Regions from separate parts of the Homo sapiens genome. Here regions 2 and 3 are each reported to be linked to region 1. The links are microRNA targets in miRTarBase. Many come from high-throughput screens and were not tested one by one. Region 1 holds a microRNA gene; each other region holds the end of a gene's coding sequence.

What was found. Region 1 holds the annotated microRNA hsa-miR-4451 (UGGUAGAGCUGAGGACA, at 3,094-3,110, shown strand). A microRNA usually pairs through its seed, bases 2 to 8, with sites in the 3' UTR of a target mRNA and lowers its output. Matches are read on the target gene's strand: a 7mer-m8 pairs with bases 2 to 8, a 7mer-A1 pairs with bases 2 to 7 and ends in A, and an 8mer does both.
Region 2: miRTarBase lists RAB40C as a target of hsa-miR-4451. Seed matches in the 3' UTR shown: 7mer-m8 at 1,631-1,637.
Region 3: miRTarBase lists RNFT1 as a target of hsa-miR-4451. The part of its 3' UTR that is shown has no 7-base or 8-base seed match.

Annotation. Positions count from the first base shown.
Region 1 is chr4:85,719,422-85,723,642 of GRCh38, forward strand. It overlaps MIR4451 (microRNA 4451), which reads left to right and starts at 3,047; the gene lies at 3,047-3,112. ARHGAP24 (Rho GTPase activating protein 24) reads left to right here. Exons shown (of 10, transcript NM_001025616.3): 3 at 2,464-2,551. LOC124900728 (a long non-coding RNA gene) reads left to right here and starts at 2,569. Exons shown (of 2, transcript XR_007058169.1): 1 at 2,569-3,591; 2 at 3,697-4,221.
Region 2 is chr16:627,169-631,353 of GRCh38, forward strand. RAB40C (RAB40C, member RAS oncogene family) reads left to right here. Exons shown (of 6, transcript NM_021168.5): 6 at 174-2,100. The coding sequence ends at 454. WFIKKN1 (WAP, follistatin/kazal, immunoglobulin, kunitz and netrin domain containing 1) reads left to right here and starts at 3,817. Exons shown (of 2, transcript NM_053284.3): 1 at 3,817-4,185. The coding sequence starts at 4,086. RefSeq lists enhancers at 239-972, 2,442-3,175, 2,701-2,995, 3,176-3,910 and a silencer at 359-609.
Region 3 is chr17:59,949,289-59,953,509 of GRCh38, reverse strand. RNFT1 (ring finger protein, transmembrane 1) reads left to right here. Exons shown (of 9, transcript NM_016125.4): 9 at 399-1,270. The coding sequence ends at 533. RPS6KB1 (ribosomal protein S6 kinase B1) reads right to left here. Exons shown (of 15, transcript NM_003161.4): 15 at 2,936-4,221. Among named protein-coding and RNA genes, the nearest start is that of RNFT1, 13 kb to the left of the region's middle.

The DNA of each region.
Region 1 (4,221 bases):
TTGGAGAGCGCTATGCTTTATCAGTCTAAGCCCAGAAGGAGGGAAATGGCTGAGGACTATAATTTTCTGTGCCAAACCAAGTAGGTTGAAAATTGAGTAAAATACTACTTTAGCTAAATATTACTATTTTTTGAGCTGGGAAAAATGGACAATATAATACAGTGGACAGGAGCATGGGCTTTTGAGTTCAGCACACTTAGTTTTTAACACTGGCTTCATTATGTTAACAGTTCCCATTCACTCAACAATACACATTTTTAGCCGTTAACTATATGCCAGGCAAAATGCTTGGCATTGGTAGTAAATTAGGGAGCAAAACACATATTATTTTTCCCTTACAGTTTAACGAGGGAGATGGACTTTAATCAATTCATCTTACAAATAACATAACTACATACAATGGTAAATCAGTCCAGGAAAAATTCAAGAATCTATGCAAGTATATTTTAGATGTAGACAATCTTAAAAATGGTATAAAATTGCCAGGGAAAGAATGTTGTCCTAAGGTAGATGGGAGCATGCTGCCATTTATAGAAGGGTAGTTGCTGGATGATAGAAAGCCATAGAAAGCAAAAAAGTGTAAGAGCAGAAACAAAAAAACCAAACATCGCATGTTCTCACTCATAGCTGGGAATTGAACAGTGAGAACACTTGGACACAGGAAGGGGGACATCACCCACCGGGGCCTGTTGTGGGGTGGGGGGATGGGGGAGGGATAGCATTAGGAGATATACCTAATGTAAATGACAAGTTAATGGGTGCAGCACACCAACATGGCACATGTATACATATGTAACAAACCTGCACGTTGTGCACATGTACCCTAGAACTTAAAGTATAATAATAATAATAATAATAAAAGAAAGATGTCAGAATATTCTGGAGAATTCAGTGAAGAGGCATTTGAAAAATTTCAGACAAGAGATAATAGTTGCCTGAAATTAGAGAGTGGTAGTAGTAGAGATACATAGTAGAGATAATGATTTCTATATTTCTGGCTTTTGCAACTGCATAGAAGAGGGTGACAGTCACTGAGCTGGGGAATACATAATGAGAGCCAGATTTACTTGCATTTTAATTTGACTAAGTTGAGTTTAAGACATCTTTGAGATAAGTGGAAATGTCAAATAAGCTTTTGAATGTATCTGAAGCTCAGAGTGTCCTAGATTAGAAATATTACTCCGATATTCATTGGCTTACAGTTGGTTATTGAAATCATAGGCCTGGATGAGATAGCCTGGAGAAAGAGAGTACTAGAGTCAGAAGAGAAGAAATTATTGGATAAATCTTTTTAAAAACTCTAATATTTAAAGGTCAATTAGAGTCAGCAAAAGACATTCAGACAACAGAGAAATTAGGGAAAAACCTAGAGAAAACAAAGAAACAAAGGAAAGAAGGTGCTTCAAGGAAAGAGTGGTCAATAGTGATGAACACTTCTAGAAAGTCAAGTCACTGAAAAGTGAACATTATCAAACACGCAGCTTGTGAGTCATGTAAGTGGAATGCTGGGTGCATCAACCAGGCTGCAGTGGGTACAGTGAAGAAATAGATTCAGTATAGACAGTAGGCAAACAAAAAAATAGAATAGCGGGAAGTCAAAGTACTTTTTTTAATGACACAGACTTTTAAGTATATCTCAGCACTGAATGAAATGATCCACTAAAGAGAGAAATTTAAAGATAGAGAAAGGATAGCTGGGCGTGGTGGCTCATGCCTGTAATCCCAGCATTTTGGGAAGCCGAGGCAGGTGGATCACCTAAGGTCAGGAGTTCGAGACTAGCCTGGCCAACATGGTGAAACCCCATCTCTACTGAAAATACAAAAATTGGCCGGGTGTGCTGGCAGATGCCTGTAATCCCAGCTACTCAGGAGGCTGAGGCAGTGGAATTCTTGAACCCGGAAGGCAGAGGTTGCAGCGAGCCAAGATCATGCCATTACAATCCCACCTGGGTGACAAGAGCAAAACTCCATCTCAAAAAACAAACAAAAAAAAAAAAGAAAAGGAAAAGAAAGAAAAGGAAAGAAAGAGAAGAGAGAAGAGATAATCAAGAGAAGGCTTATCACAACTATGTCTAAGTCTACCTTGTTTTCACAGCTATAAAATGGGGAAAAGAATATCTACCTCATAAGATTATACTACCAATTAAATAATATGGTGCGGGTAGAATGCTTAGTAAAATTTCTGGCACACAGAATGTGTTTAATAAATTGGTGCTTAAGATGAATCTAGCAGCTAACATACATATTAGTCTTATACATATTAGATGCTCAACAAGTATTCGTTAAATCTTGAGTGAACATGATTCTGGCACATAATTTTTGATTATTGGGAATATAAAAGATTCTGATGCATCTTACTGTATACTGGGTTATAGCTACACCTTGGATATTCACTGATTATAATGATGATATATGATGTTTGCTCTCTGATGATGTTGATGTTTTGGGTATTTGTTTTCACAGGGTACTATTTTTCTGCCTGGAAATAAAGTTTCTGAGCATCCCTGCAATGAAGAGAACCCAGGGAAGTTCCTTTTTGAAGTAGTTCCAGGTAAGATATTTTCCTAGTCTGATTAAATTATTGTCATCCTGTGTTGGTAAAGGTGAAGATGGGTCAGACAGGTTTCATTCTTTTTTGAATCATGACTGAGAACCTTAATTTGAGGCTTGGTTAGTGTTGACGCAGATAATGACTGCAGGTTTATATACTAGTACAAATGAATGCACTCACACACACATACTCTGACCACATAACTACTGGATTTTCATTTGTCCATGAGACTCCATAGTTGACCACAAGTCATGATACAGTATTTGTTCAGGACTATTGGAGATGAATTTGATTTTACAGCGCTCTTGTGATGTGAAATTTGACAAGGGGTTATAGGTTGAATGCTTTGCCCAGTGGAATCACTGACATATTTCCTCACAAAATTGTATCTTCAAGGAGGTTTTGCAAAAAACAAAAAAAAAAACAAAAAACAAACAAACAAAAAAAAACAACTCTTACTACTTAATACTTGTAATACTGACCAAGTATTACAGTTCTGTACCTCAGCTTTGCTCCCAACCAACCACTTCCACATGTTTTGCTGGTAGAGCTGAGGACAGCTCTGCCAAGACATCAAATCCCTCAGTTAAACTTTTGAAACATCCTTTCGTTTTTCCTAGTCATCTGTATTCATTCCTCTTAGTGAACCTGATCTCCACTAAAGTCTTTGACTAACCCAGCAACAATTCCTCCAAGGCCATGTTGTCTACCTCTTTGATCAATTCTTCAACTTTTCCTTATCCCTCAATGTAAGAAAAAGGGAGGTAGGAATCTGGCTCCGGTTGACCGTTTGTGTAATATTGATATTGATTTGATCACAGTCTAGGGTGGATGTGAATTTATTTGGGTAAGTAATGTGGAGTTCTTATCAATAATGCAGTCAATAAAATGTATTTTTCCTATATTTATATTAAATGCTGGGAATCTAAAATGGAAAAGCATATTTTCCCCTCGATGAAAACAGCTGTGGCACTAAGTTCATCTGGCTCATGATGGAATCCATGACTAAATGTGAATTAATGCAGCTGAAGTGCAGAAAGGTTAGTCAGATGCAATGTGTTATTTGTTTCCCTCCAGGGAGAACATATTTTAAGAAACCTGAATCTTATTTGCCTTATTAAAATCCTTTTATTCTTACTTCTTAGTGGAATACCCTGTATAGAACCAGATTCCAGATGTTACAAAGTCTTTGAAGTATCAGTAGAGGAAATGTCTTTTCCGATTTATTCTCAGACAATAGCGCATGTTGGCTTTTAAATCAGCGTGGTATTGAACTGATGGTTGACTCTTTATCTCCAATAATGCTAGAGGTCTACTTTTCCATTCAGTCTGCTAGCTGCAAGGAGGTTTCATCTTTTGGTGAAGAAGTTCTCAAGTAATATAGACGGATATTTTCAATACTGTTTTAGAGAGAGCCATGTCTTCAAGACCAGGAAGTAACAGATAAAACCTCTTCTCCAACATTGCTATTCTAAATCATCTGTTTCACATGCAGTGCGTATGACATAATGGCTTTTGATGAACAAAGCCTAAGAAGTTTAAGACTGTGTAATATGGAATATGAAGGTTGTCCTTTCAAACAAATTTATAGGAAATTCAAGCTTGCTTCTGTAATTATGGACTTAAATATAGTATGTGAGTAGATCATTTGAAAAGATGCTTCCTGAATT
Region 2 (4,185 bases), not on the chromosome of region 1:
CACATCTGTGCTGGGCAGAGAAGTTTGGGCGTCCAGGTCCTCCAGGAGCCCAGCCTGGGAACACCTCTAGGAGTGTGGAGACCCCGCCAGGCTTCTCTTGGGCACCTCAGGTCTCCCTGCACAGGGCCTCCTCCCCCACAGCCCCATGGTCTGACACCCCCTCTGCCCCACAGTGTTCAGCCTGCAGGACCTCTGCTGCCGGGCCATCGTCTCCTGCACCCCCGTGCACCTCATCGACAAGCTTCCACTGCCCGTCACCATCAAGAGCCACCTCAAGTCCTTCTCGATGGCCAACGGCATGAACGCGGTCATGATGCACGGCCGTTCCTACTCCCTGGCCAGCGGGGCCGGGGGCGGCGGCAGCAAGGGCAACAGCCTCAAGAGGTCCAAGTCCATCCGTCCACCCCAGAGCCCCCCCCAGAACTGCTCGCGGAGTAACTGCAAGATCTCCTAGCGGGGATGGGCGGGGCCGCCTGTGCAGATGCCAGGAGGGCTCGAGCTGGACACTCCTGGCTGGACGCCAGGCCAGTGCCGCCTACGTGGAGACTGTCCACACAGCTGCCTCAGAAGCGCCGGGCTTTCCTCACACCTGAGCCGGGTGCGAGGAGGAGCATGCACGGACCAAGCGCGGCAGGCGGGAGGAGGGGGCGCGGCTGGGCTGCTGGTGCTTCCGGGAATCTTGGTCGGAAACAAGCCGGGCCTCCCCAGCTGCCTGGGCTTGACCGGCGGGGAGCCTGGTTGGCCTTTCTTATTTATATAGAGAACACTTCACTTTTTTGTACATTTTTAAGGGGCCTTCAGGGAAGCCTGGGTGTGGCCCGGTGGTGGTGCACTGGTGACTTCATGGCCACGCCAGCTGCGGGGACGCACTTGGGACTCCTCGAGAGGGGACTCGCGGCCGCGATGGCAAGGCATCCTGTGAATTCATGCGCTGCGAGTGGCGGGGCTGCCCAGAGGCCGGGGGAGCAGACAGGGCCGGTGCTCCCTCTGGAAGCTTGGGTGACCGGGGCCCTGGCTCCCACGGGATGGAGGGTGTGGTCCTGTGGTCAGAGCCCAAGCAGCACTCAGGAGAGGGGAGAAAGGAGGTGCACCTGGCAGCCCACATTTTTGTTGCTCCCCAAATCCCTCCCCACGTGGGGATGAGAACCTTCCTGCTGTGATGTGACACCTTCGGGGACATTGACCACTCAAAACTCAGATCATCTCGCCCACCCTGGAGAGTGCAGAGCTATCTGTAGACTTAGGAATACTTGATGGGCAGCGGTGCAGACCCCGGGCACCTGCGTGCAGCCTCCTGTTCTCGGCAGCTTCTGTCGCTGGCCCTGGGGTCCCCACAGCTGCAGCTCTCCTGTGAGGTTGCACGGCATCAGAACCATCCTGACCTTCTTAGGGACGTGCCTGGAACCACCTCGTCCACGTCCACGTCCACCTGGGGGCCTCGGGAGGCTAGGCCCCTCCTCAAAGGCCCACCAGCCCGGCGCTCATGCTGAGCCCCAGGCACGCAGGGCCGGCCACCTCTCTCCTGAAGCCATTGGCCGCTCCTCCACCCAGTGCTTCTGCCCATGCCTGCCCCAGCAGCCCCTCTGCACGGTCACCATCGCCTGGGCCTGCCCACAGCACTGGTGCTCACCTCTACCTCCTGTCCTCAGGCCGTGCGGCACGACATGGCCAGCACGCAGAAGGAGCCCTCCCGGGACCCAGGACCCCCCGTGGTGGACTCCGCGGCACATGCTTCCCAAGGTGGTCCCACGGAGGGTGTTACTGGGCACCAGTGGACTCGCCCCATGGCCCGTTCCTGGGAGATGAGGGCCGTGGCCTGCATGAACTACCAGATGAGTAAGGGAACCCCAGGCAGGCGGCCCTGCCACAGCCCCCAAAGACACTGGCCTCCTGCTCCAGCTTCCCTGTCCTGGCCCCACCTGTCCTGTTGCTGCCAGCAGGGCCCTTGTTTGGGATTATGAACAAACCTCACAGACTTTGAGGACCTGGATGGTCCTGCATTCACGGCATCAACACTACCCGCGCTGCTGTTAGACACTCCGCCATTCCTGGTTCTCTCCGAACCGTTCTTTGTACAGTAAATGTAATTCAGCTGTGGTCCCCACGTTTTGCTGTGTCTGGTGGGGTGGGTCTGGCAGTGGCGGTGCCCCGTGCCAGGGGCCAGTGCTGCTTCATACCCGGCAAACTGACCTCTGGCCTTTGTTTTGCCTGCTGTTCCCTGCGCTGACCGGGCTGACCTGCCGCGGTTGGCTGGGTTCGCCTCAAAGTGAGGGCTGGAGCTGGGCTGGAGCAGCTGGGCCTGGTCACGGCCATTCTCCTCTTCCCGGTGGATGGAATCCCAGCTGGGCTGTGCTGAGCCCTCGCTCACAGTCCCCGGCAGCAGATGGCCTGGGGCGGACTGTCCCCAACAGCAGCAGGACTCCAGAGGGCCAGGTCCTCCAGTCAGTCGGCCCGCTCAGCAGAGCCGCCTGCACGCTGGCCAATCTGGTGTCTGCTATGCCCGGCCCAGGGGGGTGTGGACGCCCCGGAGGTCACAGCTGAGCTGGAACGGGGCACTCCAGTTGGTACAGGGACCAGACCACAGCCTCTGGCTCAGGTGCCTCCCTGTGCTGTTTCGTGGGCATGTCCGGGCCTTAAGCCCCTCCCTGGCAGCTCCAGCCCAGCCGCCTGCTGCTGGGTCTGGCCTAGCTACCCCCACCCCCACGCTATCAGGGCCCACCCCCAGTCTCCTTGTAGAGCAGGGACTGGCGCCTGGAGCCGTCTCCGGGTCTCATTCTGACCAGACCAGGCTCCTGTTACCCTGCCTCCTGGGTCAGAGGTCAGACACAGGGTCAGGGGGACACTCCCATCCGGTCTCAAGAGAACCACTCCCTGAGGCCCCAGACATCTGGAGCCACAGAGGGTTTGGAAGGGTAGATTCCAGGCAGCCTTTTGTCCTGCTGCACCAGGCAGGCCAGCCCCCTGCCCTCCCCAACGAAGAGGAGCCAGCCTGGGGATGTGTGCCCCGCCGACGGGGGGCTGGGGCAGGGCAAGGCTCTGGTGCCCTGGGACACTTGCTCTTTTCAGCTGCAGACGCCCTTGCACTTGGCCTTCCCTCGGGCGGTGCCATCCCACGCGGAGCCACGTCCAGGGCTACACGGTGCGTGGGCCGAGGCTCCGGCATCAGCGTTTCGGGCTGTTCTTATGCTTGTGGTGGCCACAGGCCTCTTCCTGCTGCACCTGCCCCGCCTTGGGGACAGGCCTGAGCCCCAAGCCCGCTGCCTGGTTTCAGGGATGGGGTCTCTGGGAATGCAGTCCTGCCGGGTTGGGCCCCACTCCAACAGGGGCAGCAGAGCAGAGGAGGCCGGGCTGTGCTGGGCGTCCTGCAGACCCCTGTGCCCCTGAAACAGCCATGGAGGGGGGAAGGAACCTCGGAGCGGAGTGAAGCCCTCGGCCGCACGTGACCGTTGCCAGCCTGGACCTGGCCCGGGGGACCCAGGCTGTGGTCAGCCACGCTCTGCGGGGAGGGCCCGTGCCTGCCACCCCCATGGCATAGGAGCCTGGGGTCCAGAGGGCGCCAGGGACAAAAGCTGGGATCTGCTGGCCCTGCCCCCACCCTACTGAGGGTCGTCAAGGAGATTGATCTCAGCCCAGGGGTGGACGAAGGGGTTCAGGTTACAGGGTCCCCTCCCCTCCCCCTCTCCAGCCAGAGCCAGCCCTTCCCCGCCCCGGTGACCCTCATGGCCAGTGGCTCTGTGCTCATGGGCCTCTGGCCCCTCCCCAACCTCCTCCCCTCTGCCCTGTGCTGACCAGGGCCTGGGAGCCCCCGCACGGTTCAGACAGAGGGGCCAGGCTGAAGCTGGAGAGGAACCAGCGTCACACAGACGGCCTCTGAGAACTTGGAGACCCCGTTACCCACCCAGCAGGGGTGTCAGGACAAGCATCTGCTGCAGGCTTCAGCCTCAGGGGCAAAAGGGAGCCCCGGGGTCCTGGTGGGGGCACCGACCACAGGCCCGGAGGGTGGATGCCTGCAGGAAGCTGGGCTCTGTGGAGCCCGAGGAGGGGCTGGTGGCCACACCCCCCGGCCCCCTGGCTCGGCGGCCCTCATGCCCGCCCTACGTCCACTCCTGCCGCTCCTGCTCCTCCTCCGGCTGACCTCGGGGGCTGGCTTGCTGCCAGGGCTGGGGAGCCACCCGGGCGTGTGCC
Region 3 (4,221 bases), not on the chromosome of region 1:
TCCCTTTCAGGCTGGACACAGTGGCTCACGCCTGTAATCCCAGAACTTTGGGAGGCTGAGGTGGGTGGATCACCTGAGGTCAGGAGTTCAAGACCAGCCTGACCAACATGGTGAAACCCTGTCTCTACTAAAAATAAAAAAACTAGCTGGGCATGGTGGTGGTGGTCACCTGTAATCCCGGCAACTTGGGAGGCTGAGGCAGGAGAATCACTTGAACCAGTCGGGGGCGGAGGTTGCAGTGAGCCGAGATGGTGCCATTGCACTCCGGCCTGGGTGACAGAGCAAGACTTCAGTCTCCATCTCAAAAAAAAAAAAAAAAGAATCCCTTTCATTCCCTACAATGTGATGGATTTAAAATGATTATCAAATATCAAATCTAATTCTTAATTCCATTACAGCATATATTTTGTGAAGAGTGCATGACCTTATGGTTTAACAGAGAGAAAACATGTCCACTCTGCAGAACTGTGATTTCAGACCATATAAACAAATGGAAGGATGGAGCCACTTCATCACACCTTCAAATATATTAAGTTGTATAAACTATCAAGGCCACAAAATACTAATGTCATTTGGTCATAATGACTACTGATAAGGCATCAGAATGGATTTTCAGGGCTACCAGAAAAATGTTTCCAGATGGTTTTAGAATGTAGGACTTATGATCCAATTCACCAAAAGATTAAATGAAACCACCCTGTGTTTTAAAATATATATAATGTTCAACCTAATGTATATGCAACATTTATTCTATTCTAATTATTTGACAGGTAACTGCAGTGTTAAATTGTAAATGTGTTTTCTTTATGTTACCAAAACAGCAATTTGAAATTAGAACTAGTGGTTTTAGAGAACTCAGGTATTCTTTCCTGACATTGTTTTCAGAATAAAGAATATTTTTCATAATATTTTAAGATACATACTATCTAAAAGTAGAATTTTGTTCAGCATTGACTTTTATAATTCCCATCCTAAAAATTCTTAATATTTTCATAAAATTTGTATTTTTAAATGAAAATTCTAAATGTTGTATTTTATCAGTAACATTTTCTAAGTGAAGATTAATTTACTGAGGATGATACATTATAGTATTGTATTATTCTCTGTAGTAAGATTAGTAATAAGTGAAAATAAATGATTTAAATTCATTTTGTCTCTGGACGTCATAAATTCTTCCTGCCATCAGCTTTAATGTTCATGATCATGCTTTTTGTATAGTACCATGGAGTATCTCGAAGTAACTATTAAAATAATTCATGTGGATTATAAACAGCTGGCTTACTTGATGATTTGAATAGTATAGAAAACAAGACAAATGGCCAGGCATGGTGGCTCACACCTGTAATCCCAGCACTTTGGGAGGCAGAGGCAGGAGGACTGCTTGAACCCAGGAGTTCAAGACCAGCCTGGGCAACATCCCATCTCTATTTAAAAGAAAAAAGTTTCAAGACAGATGCCCTAAAATCTTATAAAAAATTGCCCTTATAATTAGTCTTCTCCATAAAAGTTTTGGAATTTTATGCTTGAATCACCATCAATTGGAAGATTGAAGCTCGCACTGAGAGGTGGTCATGAGGTTTTGATAGTGTGGTTTGTTCGCCTCTAGGTATTTGTGCAGGGTGCTAGAAAAGAGAATGAAGCACTTTCTCCCCTTGTTACCTCTAAGGAGGAATCTGAAATCTAAAACATGTCTGAAGGGCTGCTAGTGCTTATATCCAAGTTTAGAGTACATCTATCAGTTTGTAGTCGAGGAAAAGGTGGTAGAAAGAACTTAGGAAGCAGAGGTAGAAAACAGATTTGCTGTACTGATAAGACAAAAGCTAAACTAGCAAATGAATTGTTTAGTTTAGCAAACTGACCAACTGGTTATAGAAGGCACTTCCATGACTGTACAGCCATCCAAATTGACAAACAAACATTAGGAAGCCTGTACCATTTTTTTCTCTCCAGGTAAATACTACCAGGTTGTAAGTACAACTATATTCAATTACAGTATATTTTACTCTGTTATCTACTTTGAGACCCACTACAAATATTATTTAAATGGCTTTGTGGTGATGCTAATAGTTGTATTATTTAGGTATACGGCAGAGGATGGGTGAGAAAAGCAATGTGGGATTACAATTCGGCTGTGAAGGATAGCCAAGATGACTTCCTGTTCAAATACAAGAATAGCATTTTACTTCAGCCCTATTAGAATACCTATTTAATACATTTGCTTACTCTGTAACTATTCAGACAGCACTGTTTCTTAATGAATGTGATTACATAACCAAGGAGGTGCATGGTGGGGTTTTTTTTTGGAATGCAGTTTACCTATAAATTGAAAAGGGAGAAAATCTAATGGAGCTATGCCATCCAATAAAAATGCTGATGAACTGGAAGCATTTCTTCCATCCCTCTATTCCTTCACCTCAAAAACAGGTAATGTAGATTCAGAAACTCATTTACTCTGTGAATTCAGATCATGGCTTCTAAAAGATTGTTTTACCAGTATTGATAGGCTACTATGTTGTATAGCAAGGTAAGATCAGTTTGAGAGCTTCTGTAGAGAAATCCCCTTGGCAAGTGTGGTATAATTACCTCACAGAAAAGAAGTGGTTAATGCAAAATACCCAGCTTACACTAGATATATTGAGACATTAGTTAAAACACATTTGTTCACTACGTTATTTTGTGCATACATATCAAATTATCAAATGTAGCTGACCAAGTGTAGCTGAACAGATTGTTGATTGTTAGCACAAGAAGGTCTTCCTAGAGTTTTTTATGAAGCTAGCTTTCACGTAGATTGTTACATGTATTTTTTTAAGTAAACAATTCATATCTACTATCTGACATAACTTGAAAATCAAAGATGTGTAACATCTAACTTAAAAATCAATACTAAAACTTGTTATATACTTAAATAGCTTCAGTTTCTCAGCAGAACAGCTTTTAACCCATTCCTTACATACATAGTTTATTTATATGACAACTTGAACACATCTGACATGTTAAAATAAATTTAAACCATTTATACACCTGATACGTATACTAATTCCTTCCTATCTTTAAGATAATAAAAAAATAAATCACTTCTATTTATGTTCATTCAAATTTGCATTTAATTTCTATTTACATTCATTCAATCCGAAATCAAATAATACAGTCAACTAAATACAAGATGAAAAGCAGAACAGGTGTTACCCTCATAGCACTCCTAATAAGGCAGCTGAAGAATTTTATTTACTGATAGATGCAAAGCGAACTTGGGATAGGAGAAACAATAGTTTAAAGAGCAAACACAAACATAGATGAACCCATCTTTCAGATGTTATTCCGGATAATCCACTGAGATAATACTTGTGCTATAATGTTAAGAATCACACAAGAAAAAGTACTGTATTAATCAGCAACAGACCACAGGTTATGTGTGACAAATACTTTTGTGATAGTTTGTCCAGCTTGCTAGTGTCTACTCCTATGAAAAAAGGTAGATGTTTGGACATTGATGTTTTTGAGAAATTAACCATTTTCAAAGCCTTAAAATCTATTCTTCATAAATTCAACATTTCTCATGGGAATAATCTTAGATCTAGCCCTTGTAAGCTAGGAACCATATGATTAACTGAATATTCAAAATAGGTCCTATATTAAATATATAATCCAAGGCTCAGTATATTAATACTATCTAAGATGCATCTTGTTTATAATCATTCATTACCTATAGTAAAGAATGTTGAATTTATGGAGTATCATACATGCATCCTCCACCCCTGCCCACAAATTATCTTCTATCTTAAAAAATAGTATGGAAAAATCCTTCTTGAAGGATTCAAATTAGTTAAGACCATAAAGGGGGAAAAAGAACATAATTTTCCTAAAAATCTGGTTCAAAGTTCAATAATTAATACTTTACATTGTTAATCACAGCTGGTTTATAAATCCCAGTTTAGTTATTCTGTAATGCTACAAACCTTATAAAATCAAATTAGTAAACTTCAGTGATTATATTTTAATTAAAAAACAGCATGTATAAAATAAAAAAATATCCTGTAATAGCTGATTTTAAAGAAAATAATCAAGTGATGAAAAAAAAGCACTTAATCTCTTTTATACACTTACCTGGTATAACATAAAGAACCCTCTTAGAAACTCAAGACTAGTAATATCGACATCATATTTTAAACTATGCTTGGATTTTTACAAATAAATATAGATAAGCCATATTGCATAGGT